Homo sapiens: one gene and its partners. The protein of the gene in region 3 interacts with the protein of the main gene of each other region in a pairwise test. Each region holds a gene or a part of one and is shown on either strand. Other genes may lie near its edges.

Region 1 (3,654 bases), on a different chromosome or scaffold from region 3:
TCGTCCTGAAGCCTTGAAAGCCATCCCCTGGGTACAGGTCTTTGTCTTGAAAGAAAGCAACAGTAGAAATGCCTTCCCTGCCCACAGCACTTCAGGTCTAAAGAAGACCAAGTGAGGACAGTGACATGATCAGGAAGGGTCACAGCAGCCATGGTAGGTGAATGGAGCAGCTTTTCCTTCCTTTCCTGCTTTCAGAGCCTACTCAGTGCCAAACTTACATCAAAAGCTCAGCAAGTACTGATTGATTAATCCCTCTTGCCTACGGCAAAATGGCCCTGAGGGCTATCTCTCAGCTCTGCACTGGCCTCTGAGCTGTCTGCCAGGCAGGGCTCTAGAAAAGAGTCCCAAGGAAGAGAATAAGGTTCCCCAAATCAGCTTCACACTGCAACAAGGAGAGAGGAGGAAATGGTGGGAGACTGACCTGAGGAACAAGGTATGGCTACTATTGTCTCTAGTACCAGTTACTTCCCTTTCATCTTCCCATTCGTGGGCAAGGTGGAGACAATGTGCCAAGGATAAGTTTTAACAATCAAAGTCCTACCTCAGCTTCCCAATGCTTGCACATAAATTGGAATGTGTACATCATTCATTCTGTCTCTCTCTGTGTGTGTGTGTGTGTGTGTGTGTGTGTGCGCGTCTGAAGAGGAGTGGGGAGTATAGGAAACAAGATAGTCCAGATGCTGTTGCCGTGGTAATACTAAATCGTGTCCAAAGAGGAGGCTGAGATTCCTTTTTAGTTAACCTTGTCCACATGATTTGACTATCCAGCAGGCTTGGATTCCCAGGCCCCAGAGACTTCGGGACTGTTTTCCAGCACTTGAATGTGGTATATAAGTGCTGATATCAAAAGGGATATGTAGGAAAGACAAGATTATAGGCAGGGCATTGTCTGACCAGGACGAGGCCCGAAGCAAAAGTCTTTGTTTGTCTCTGGCACCTCTTGATAATTGTTGTTTTACTCCTAGAACCCACCCACTGATCCCCATCCATCCCTAGTACCAGTCACGGCTGCTCTAGCATTTCGGCCTTGTCAACTACTGCAGGCCCTGATCAAGGAGGCCTCTGTTCATGGGGTAAGGTTAAGGGGTGGGTTCTGGGAGGAGGGTAAGACTGTAGTGCAGATTCGAGACCTAGGGAGGTGGGGCCAGTTTCTCACTCAATGAGCCTGCCTGTTGTTTAGCTCTATTGTATAGGGTTCTTCTATCTCTCCCTTTGTCAGCTGGATTCAAGGGACAGGCTGGGAATTGTGCAGGGTACAATTGGTCTCTTTCTACCATTCCTTTCGATGAAAGCCCTTCCTCTCCTTCCTTTGATGAGTTCCCAGATTCACACTGAATTTCCATCATGGAGCTGGTCCTTGAGGCGGGCCCAGGGCATGGGAAAGGAGGGAGGGAGGGTTGGGAGCTCTTGGTGCCTGCTTAAAGAGACAGCATCAGGATCAACACAGTCCCTTGATGAACCTGGATCTGTGTAAGTCACATTGGTTCTGTTGATCTCTGTCAGACCGCTGTGAAGAGCGCTGGTGAGAAGGGCTTAAAGTTGGAGTATCAACTATCACAGATTGATTAGACTTGTTTTGGGAGTTTGTATACAAATGTAGCCAACCATGACATGATCTTTTCCCTTTGCTTACATTTTGCCCACACAACTTCGTTATATCCATTTTAACACTTGCTTATAGGTAGCTTTAGATTTTGATTCACAGACATATGTTTGTTCACCCCAACAGGATTTCAAGTTTTCTAAAGAAAGGGACTGGCCTTTTAATTCCCTTCTGTTTCTCCTAATGTCTATGTCACTGCTAGTGTGCTTAATTCTTGTACTGAATTCACATAAACAGAAATGAAAGAAAAACACTGGAGGGGGTCATTATTTTTCTCTATGACCTTTCATCAAAGTCAGGTGGCTTAATCTGACTGAGTTGCATTGAGAAATGTTATTACTATATGGTTCTTTTATGCCAACTCTCTCATCTCGCAGTCTGTACTTAGACTGGAAATGTGAGAATGTCTCTTGAGAGAGCCAAGGAACTTCTCCCCTAGAATCTCTTCCAGCCTTCTTGAATCAAACTCACACCCTTTCAACCAGGAGGGGTTCTGAAATGGAGAGCTTTTGGCTTTAGGCTATTGTTCACACATACCCAAGGGACATTTCTTGGACTGTGAAAAATCAAAGGGAGCCCAATGGATCTTTTCTCAGAATGCTTTGATTGTCAACTACTTTGATGAAAAAATAATTTCTTGCAGGCTCTGAGTTTTTCTCAGTTAGAATCTAAAATCTGATTCTTGCTTGGACAGACTGACTGAGATTCTTCACTTCTGCTGAACTTAAATGCCCCCAAAGCAAACATTTCATCTAGGTTGTGAAGAGATGAACATCTGATGCTTATGCTGATATTACTGAATTGTTTATAGCTTAATAGTGATAGATTTATCTAAAGTCATTTATTTCAGACTTTACATTAGAAACTCATTAAAGCCTACTTCTTTCTTGTCCCTTGCTTTGAGCTGTAGTGGAGCAGAAAAGGGGATGCTAAGTTATTCAAGTTCTAAGAAAATAGAGGAAAAATGGATGTAAAAAGAAAGGCTATGATCTGGTGACTCAGAATTGCTCCTAAGGCTTAGCCATTTATCACCCAGTAAGAACACAATCCATGACACTCTCAGGTTATTTGGATGATGATTGAGGGATCAGATACACTCAAGAGGATGTTTCCCTCTCATCTTTGCAACCCTAGAGGTGGCATCACCTAACGCTTAAAGTGGAGTTCTCTTTTGGCTAGCAAGAGTTCAAGTTCCTCCATCCCTGACCATACCTGCACAAGCACTTAGCCCTTCCCAGATGAAAATGCTGGGATGAGTGAGTAGGCCCAAGATGGTCACTTGCTAGGGTGGATGGCTCTTCTTACCCTCGGCTAAACAAACAGTCCTGCCATTGTTCCCTGAGTCTGACCCCCTCCCCACCCCCCGGCTGCAGGCCCCTGTGGAATACCAATCAGGCTCCTGAGATCTCAGGAAAGAACAAGGCTTCTTTGTCCGGGGGAGCTATGGAGGGCTCTGTCCAAGCCCTGACCCTGTGCTGGGGAGAAAGGGAACAGTGGGGTCACTGACCTTCTTCTCCCCCCATCCCCAGGCTTCAGAGACTTTCTTTACTAGAAAAGTCTAAGAGTTTGGGGGTGGGGAGGAGTTGGATAGGCAGAGAAGGAAAATGGCAGTACTGTTTACTTCTAAGCTCCTTTTCTTGACTTATAGGCTGAATCTAGTATCTTAACCTGTTGAGAAAGAGGAAGATCAATTTCTGGAATGTTTTCTGAGAACAACAATCGATTTCAGTTGTTGTGTTTTTCTCTGTGGTATACATGTGTGTATGTGCACATTTGTACACATGCATGCATGTGCGTGTGCACACACACAGACACACCCATGGGCCAGCTCTGAAAAGACACTCTTCCCAAGCACGTTTGCAAAGTTCATGCTGAGTAAACTCAGCCTCCACTCACAGCAGCACAGCTACAGATTGCTTCTTATAGAGGCCAAGTTTCCTGGCAGCAATGCTTTAGTTCTTGGAAAAGGAAGTTCTGCTCCAAATGTTAGCTGCTTACTTTGTTTGGCTTGGGCTTCTGAGGCTCATCTTTGGTGTGACACTCTTTGAAGG
Region 2 (3,654 bases), on a different chromosome or scaffold from region 3:
ATATTTTTATTTCTTCTTCCCTTTCTCTTTTATCGACTGTAGTCAATAATATTGTTTTTCTTAATGTTAACTATGTTCTGATAAATTTTTACTACATTTTTATTACTTGATTTTTCAGCTTTAGATAGTTTTCTTTGATTCATGGCTACTATAGATGAGGCTCTCAGCATATTTTCATTTCAACCTTTTTCCATTTTCCCATTTTGTTGTTAATTATATCAATTTTACATTGTCAGGGTATATAACATTTCCATTCAGTTTTGTCATTCTATTCTTCACAATCGTTTTGTTTTAGTTATATTGTTAAATATATTTAGTGCTCACTACCAATTCTTTTGGATGATTTTCAGGAGAAAAAGGGGAAAATGCTAAGTTATGGAGCCCTGTTGATCATGGAATTCCCATAAGCTTTTGATCTGGGCTTGTTAATTCTTCCTAATAGAGAATACCCATACGTCCAGGCTGAACTTGGAAAAGAAGTACCAAGTTTTAAATCCCGACCCAAAGAGAGAAAAGGTTGAATTTCATTTTTCTTTTAGTACTCTAGAGATGTGCCATGATTTTACATTTTTTTATTTATTGATATTTTTAATACTATCATTTTTTAAAAAGGATATGAAAACACAACTAAGAAGAAGGAGAAACTTAAACATAAGAATTTACATGCTTGCTTTAATTAGACCTGAAATTTGGTTGAGGTCCTACGGAAATTAGGAGTAAAAGAAGTCACAATAGTTACTTCTCATATAAGAAATAAGGAAGTTTGTTGTTTCTTCAGAAAACATATTTTTTTTAAGCCACAGGATTATTTTAAAAAATGTACTTGCATATTGGAAATGTTGAGTGAGGTTGCAGAAGATATTCCTGACAACACTATTAAAGTAAATCCAGAAATGGATTTGTAATGGATAAGGCATAACATTCTATGACAGTATGCATGGTGAGTGACTAAGTTAATGACATCCAAGGAAATGCTTTACTTATCTAATGTAGTGGTTCTCAGATTTTTTTTCTTCAATATGCTTAGATAATGTTCACATTTGAGACATATTCCTATTGCTAACAGTGGCTCACAGAGAACTGATGCATAGAGATAGTGTTTTACAGTGTGCTTACTGTAACTCTCTGCTCTCTCCACTGATTGGTGAATTAGGTAACACAACTTGGATTAGAACTGCTTGCTTAATGTAATTCAGGAATGGGAGATGGGGTAGAGAAGAAGAAGAAACTTAATATTTATTGAATATCCATTATGTTCTCAGCTGTTGACTAGATGCTTTGCACACATTATTTAATCTTCACAGAAGTCTTATGAAGTTATTTGTATTTCACATTTTTTAATGAGGAAGCTAAGACTAAGAATTAAAGTAATTTAGCCTACAATCTCATAGCAATTATATGATGGAGCTAGGAAGTCAAAACCATGTCTTATTCTAAAGCCAAGCCTAGAAAAGTAGATAGATAAGCATGTCTTTTCCTTTAATAAATGGTTTTCGATCATCTACTCTGCTGGGCACTGAGAATACGAAGATGGATTTGAGATGATTTTTATTTTCAAAGTACTCCAGGTTAATGAGACACACATTTCAGGCATAGAGGATAATCAGTTCAGAATGGAGTGGGTTAGGAAAGGTAGTTTCAGAGCATTGAAACTGATAAGAGTCCCTGATACATCAGAAAGTCTTGCGCAAGGAGAATTAGATAACTAGGAAAGAGTTTCGGTTTAATAGGTGGAAGTTTTAGTTATAATTTGCTAAAAACTAAGTAGTAGTGGGGGAAAGATGGTGCCAGGGAAAGCAAAAAATTGAGTAGAAGAGGAAAAATAGTGGTTTATTACATGGTTTGGCTGGGAATAGTATTTATGCATATTTATAATAATACATATCAAGTATTAAATGTTTATATGAACCAGAATTACAATAGATCTCTTGAGAGGAAAGAATAGGAAAGGCGTGCATTTGTGATGTAGCAGAGAGGAAAGAGAAAAATTCAGATTTTTTGTACCAAGGAATTTCAGAATAATGCCTGAAACTGAAAAATCAAGAAGTAGCAATTCAAACATCTTATTTAAAGATATGGAGGTAAATATAAAAATAATGAGCCAAAAAATGGTGAAAATGGTGGGAAGTAAGGCAGGGGGATTGCTTTAGTGTGTTGCTTTTTCCACACAAACTGCAGAATCATTTAACTCTAAAAATGTACATGTGTAACAGTAAAAACTGAGTATATTAAAATGTCAGTTCTTTTTATTTTTTGTTTTGAAATGCCTAGGAATAAACAGTTTTGTCGTTCTCTCTTATGCATTAGTATAAACAAGTTTTTCAGAAACTTAATCACTTAACCTATCCTTTGTGGTTGAAAGGTCAGAATAGGTTAAGAATTTTAAATGTGAAACATTGAAAGGCTGATTAAAACATCTTAAAAGGGAATAATGTAAAAGCATGATATATGTTCACTAGAGTATATAGTGACAAGAGTTTCATTTTAAAGTTAAGAAAGAAAGTTTCATACATTATCCTTGATTGAGTAGTATTATATTCGCTTCTCCTTTTATATATAGATTAGATTTTTCCAAGCAAATTTGGTTAGGAACTTATAATTTAACTGTCTGACTTTTTTTCTTTTTACTTTATCAGGATGTAGATATGATGGATCAGAATGGAATGACGCCTTTAATGTGGGCAGCATATAGAACACATAGGTATGTAATGACTATAAAAAACTTATTTAGGCCATTTCAGCATAATACAATATGAAGTAAGAGAGAGGAAAAAGCAGTTAATACTATACTCACTAATATTTACAGTTTTTATTATGACTATAGTATATATAAATTACCATTTTGGATGTTCTGGTATCTCTGTGCTGTCTCTCCCTCACTGATTAGAGCTTCCTTAATCTGTTTCTCTTTTAACAATATCTAAGAAAAGAAGTTATCTTTTTTTAAAAATTAATTAATTTTTTCATGTGATTTACATATTGACAAATTTATTAATTAGTAAGTTGTCTTAGATCACTTTTGGAAGACTCCAAATTTAAATTTTAAAAAGTGTTATTCTTGAATTGTATAAGTATTAATGCCATTTCTAGGTCAAAAATAGAAAATATCAGGACCAAGTTGCTTATCCCCTGAAACTATTAATATATTATTTTATATGGTGTCATACATACTTAATACTTCATATTAGAATATTGTCTCATTATTGATTTTAAAGTTGTTGAGTAGGTTAGAAGTGTTCCAAAATGGAATGCTACTGTAAGCATAATCAGTTTAGTATTTGTAATGATTTCTATAATTGAAATTAGGGTTGTTGTTGTTGTTTGTTTTTTTTTTTTTTCCTTTTCAGTGTGGATCCAACTAGATTGCTTTTAACATTCAATGTTTCAGTTAACCTTGGTGACAAGTATCACAAAAACACTGCTCTGCATTGGGCAGTGCTAGCAGGGAATACCACAGTCATTAGCCTTCTTCTGGAAGCTGGAGCTAATGTTGATGCCCAGAATATCAAGGTAAAAATATTCTATATTGATAATACTGTATGAAATGTGGCTAATATGTGAATTCTGTAATAAAACAAGTTTTTCATAGACTGTCAGAGTTGAAAGAAACTTCTTCAATACAGGTTTACAGTTAAACCACATTATGCATAATAC
Region 3 (3,654 bases):
TTTTGGTAAAGGAGCTCAGAGAAGCTTTACCATTTGTTGAAAGATCACTGGTGATAACAGGCACATGCAGTGAGTGAATCTGGATTGAGTCCTGGATGGGGTTGGGGTGGGTCGCCAGAAAGGACATTTTGGGCAACTGGGAAAATGTTAGTATAGACTTTATAATAGATGACACTACTGAATTAATGTTATTTTCTTAGGTGTGGCAACAGTAGAGGAATTATGTAACAGAATGTCCTTATTCATAGGGAATAAATGCTGAAGTATTGAGGAGGGAAGTGTCATAACGTCTGCAACTTACTTTCATATGGCTCAAAAAAAGTGCACACATAGATAAAGCAGACATGGCAAATGTTAGCAATCGGTGAATCTAGGGGAGTGGCAATTGGATAGTTATTATGTTAGTCTTTCAACTTTTCTGTATACGTGAAAATTTTCAAATAAAAAGACGTGTGTGTGTGAGGGGGTAGTTAAAAAAATCAAGGTTAAAAAAAGAACACTGGACATGCAGAAGATCTGCGGTCTAGACTGGGTTCTGTAATTAACAGTGAACTTGAGTTGCTTGATAATTTTTTTTTTGAGACATGGTCTTACTTTGTCGCTGAGGCTGGGGTGCAATGGCATGATCATGGCTCACTACAGCCTCGACCTCCTGGGCTCAAGTGATCCTCCCACCTCAGCCTCCCGAGTAGCTGGGACGACAGTGGCATGCCACCATGCCCAGCTAACTTTTTTTTGTAGAGACAGGTTCTTGCTACGTTGCCCAGGCTGGTCTTGAACTCCTAGGCTCGAGTGATCCTCCCACCTCGGTCTCCCAAAGTGTTGGGATTTCAGGTGTGAGCCACCATGTCAGCCCATAATATTTTCAATAACAACAGTGATCACAACAGCAAGGACAGCTACCTCCTTATATATGATGTGTGAGTCACCTCTGAGCACTTTACATATATTAACTTGATTGAATCGCCACGACCTTCCAATGGATATTATCATTATTTCCATTTTTTAAATGAGGAAACTAAGGGACAGAGAGTTCCAGTAATTGGCCCAGGCCACACAGCTGGTAAGAGGCAGTCAGATTTGAACATGGGCACGAATACTTTTACGAGATCAAAAGAGAAAGCACCTTATAGAGTATAAAACACTATGAAGATGCATTGTTTTATTATTTTTAGCTTATCAAAATAGTAAGGTTGTAACTGTAAAACAGGGTAACATCTAAAACAAGTAAAACCAGGGCCCCTGGCGCCGGCCACTGCGGCCACCAGGTGGCAGCGCGGCGCACCCGGCGCCCGAGCTGCGAAAGGGACGCCCTTCTCCTCCCGCGCGGAACTTCAGGAGTGCGGGGCCCGAGTGTAAACTGGACCACCGTGGGGCCGCGCGGGCCCCTGGGCATCACCACAAACTGTGCCTGTGGCCATCGTGTCAGGACAGCAGGACCCCTGCACATCCGCGCCGGCCGTTACCTCCTCGGCTCCGGTGACCGAGTACGCGTGCCCCTTCACCAGCTTCTGAAACGTGATGGCCTCCGAGTCCGCGGCGCTGGTGATCTGCAAACACAGCAACCGTCAGACTGGCCGCACCCGCTCTCCCTTCCTCCCGGACTCCCTCGCTCCCTCTGTCCTACTGCCGGGCGGGACCGCCGGACGCACTAGCGCAGCGGCCGAGGCCTGGGGTGGGAGGCTCAGGGCTGCGCTTTCTTGCACTTGGAGAACCTTTCCTACCCCGTTCAAATGCTTGAACGCCGAGAATACCAGAGAAAAGGCGGAATGCAACCCTCTCGCGGAACGAGCACAGGCATTCCCGTGTGAATAGCGCATCCACGGATTTCTGCAGGCTGGGAAGGGCGGGAAAGGGCGCACGGCCGAGAGAGGGCTGGAGGGGGTCCTCGATGGCGCAGGGAAAGGGCGCACGGCCGAGAGAGGGCCGGAGGGGGTCCTCGATGGCGCAGGGCTGATACCCAGACAGCCTTGAGTGGCCCAGGGACACTGAGCACACCCTCGCCCCACCACCAGCCCATGCTCCGTGGTCTGGCCCAGCCCAGCTGTAGGGTTTATACTAGGACGGTTGTTTATTCCGGTCTGAGTCAGAATTTGCTTCTGTTTTAAGAACGCCTCACAGCCTCTCCTTTCCCCTATCTATTCTGATGAAGGTTGAGCCTGGGAAGAAGGGCTGGAGCAGAAAGGGTCTTCTGCCTCAACGTGTTCTGCTGATAAACTTTGAGAATTCCTGCCTAGGGAGTCTGACCTAGATTTTGGCTCCAAAAGCCAGGGCTTCTTATCTCTGTCCCCCGCAGAGACCAGAACCTGGATGGGACAGGGCTCAGAGGTTGGGCACAGCCTTTGCTCCAAGGCTCCTGGGCACAGTGCCCACCTCCCATCCCCTGGTGAGCGTTGCCAGCAAGGCTATTATGAGGAAATCTTTCCTCCTCTTCCTTCCGAAGTCTCCCACGGGCCTATTAGCTCTGCAAGAGTGCAGGGGAAGGCTGCACAGCACTGCAGATGGAGGGGAAGGTGGCAGGGGCAGCAGGTGGCAGGGGCTCCCAGGGAACCTGTGGTCAGAGGGGTGGGGGTGATTCAGAGCAGGCTAAGAGTGGGAAGTGGACTGAAGACAGAAGGGCTGGAGGCACCATCACCCCATCCATTACACCCCAGACAGCTTGACTTTTGCCTAGCAACCCTTGGCTTCCAGGTGATGAGCAATAATGGTAGACACTGGGGTGCTCAGAAACCAATACCTCTAAGAGATGGCACTTTGAAATGCTAAACTGAAGAAGCCTCAAGATCTCTCTGACCTCCCCTTTCCTTCTGTCTCTCGATCCACTCTCCCCCAAAGCACAGGAGGAAGCTATTCTCTGAAGTTCCCTCACCTGCCTAAAGTCTGGACCTGCCAAAGATGAAAACAATGACGTCTGGTCCTTTCCATGAGTTATTATGAACTGAACTCATATTGCAGGAAGAAAGACAAGTCTGTCAACATGGCTAGACAGACTTGTCACAAACCACTGTCTGCTCTGCAGGCCCAACAGACTTTATCCCAGACCATTTATGTTCTTTAAGCCCAATGAATTCCCCTAAAAATCATTTACGACATCCCTAAAATCATCCGCACCTCCCCATCTCCCTTCCCCTAAGAGGAAGGGAATATAACCCTCTGTATCCCAATGCGTGGTAGGGAAATCTCTTGTGATTCTCCCCTGTCCACATTCATACATTTGTATGCCATTTCTTGTATTAGTCTTCCTTTTGCCAGTTGATTTTCAGCGGACCTTCAGAGGGTGGAGGGAGGTTTTCCTTTGGCCCCTACGTGGACGAGGGCTGCATTACGTTGTACACAGGAGCAGTGGGTTCCCTTGGGCACTGTGGGAGCCTCCCTTCAGCAAGAGCAGATGGGGTGAGGCTAGGGAAGGCAGCCTGGACTTACGTCGATGGAGCAGCCAAGGAGAGAGCCTTTTTGCAGAGCTTTCTGGATGATCTTGAACAGGTTGGGAGGGGGCTTCTTCAACTCATACCACTCAGCAATGCCTCCGGTGAAGTCTTCGAAGCCCTCAGTGGTGGCACCCCCTGATAGCGCTTCATAGCATCCGTTGATCCTACAAGAGGGGATTAGACGCTGCCGCTACCCTTGACACTACTGATGCTATAATCTCTCAAA

The links.
Region 1: the proteins of CAPN2 (region 3) and PLP1 interact in binary tests that used the Homo sapiens proteins (3 or more experiments, as listed by UniProt).
Region 2: the proteins of CAPN2 (region 3) and ZDHHC17 interact in a two-hybrid assay, tested with the Homo sapiens proteins (one large-scale study listed by BioGRID and IntAct).

Annotation. Positions count from the first base shown.
Region 1 is NC_000023.11:103,779,838-103,783,491, forward strand, and holds part of PLP1 (myelin proteolipid protein), read left to right. Parts: intron 1-3,654.
Region 2 is NC_000012.12:76,812,510-76,816,163, forward strand, and holds part of ZDHHC17 (palmitoyltransferase ZDHHC17), read left to right. Parts: intron 1-2,636; coding exon 2,637-2,701; intron 2,702-3,347; coding exon 3,348-3,510; intron 3,511-3,654. UniProt on the Homo sapiens protein: Palmitoyltransferase that catalyzes the addition of palmitate onto various protein substrates and is involved in a variety of cellular processes.
Region 3 is NC_000001.11:223,746,935-223,750,588, reverse strand, and holds part of CAPN2 (calpain-2 catalytic subunit), read right to left. Parts: intron 3,593-3,654; coding exon 3,424-3,592; intron 1,551-3,423; coding exon 1,467-1,550; intron 1-1,466. UniProt on the Homo sapiens protein: Calcium-regulated non-lysosomal thiol-protease which catalyzes limited proteolysis of substrates involved in cytoskeletal remodeling and signal transduction. Proteolytically cleaves MYOC at 'Arg-226'.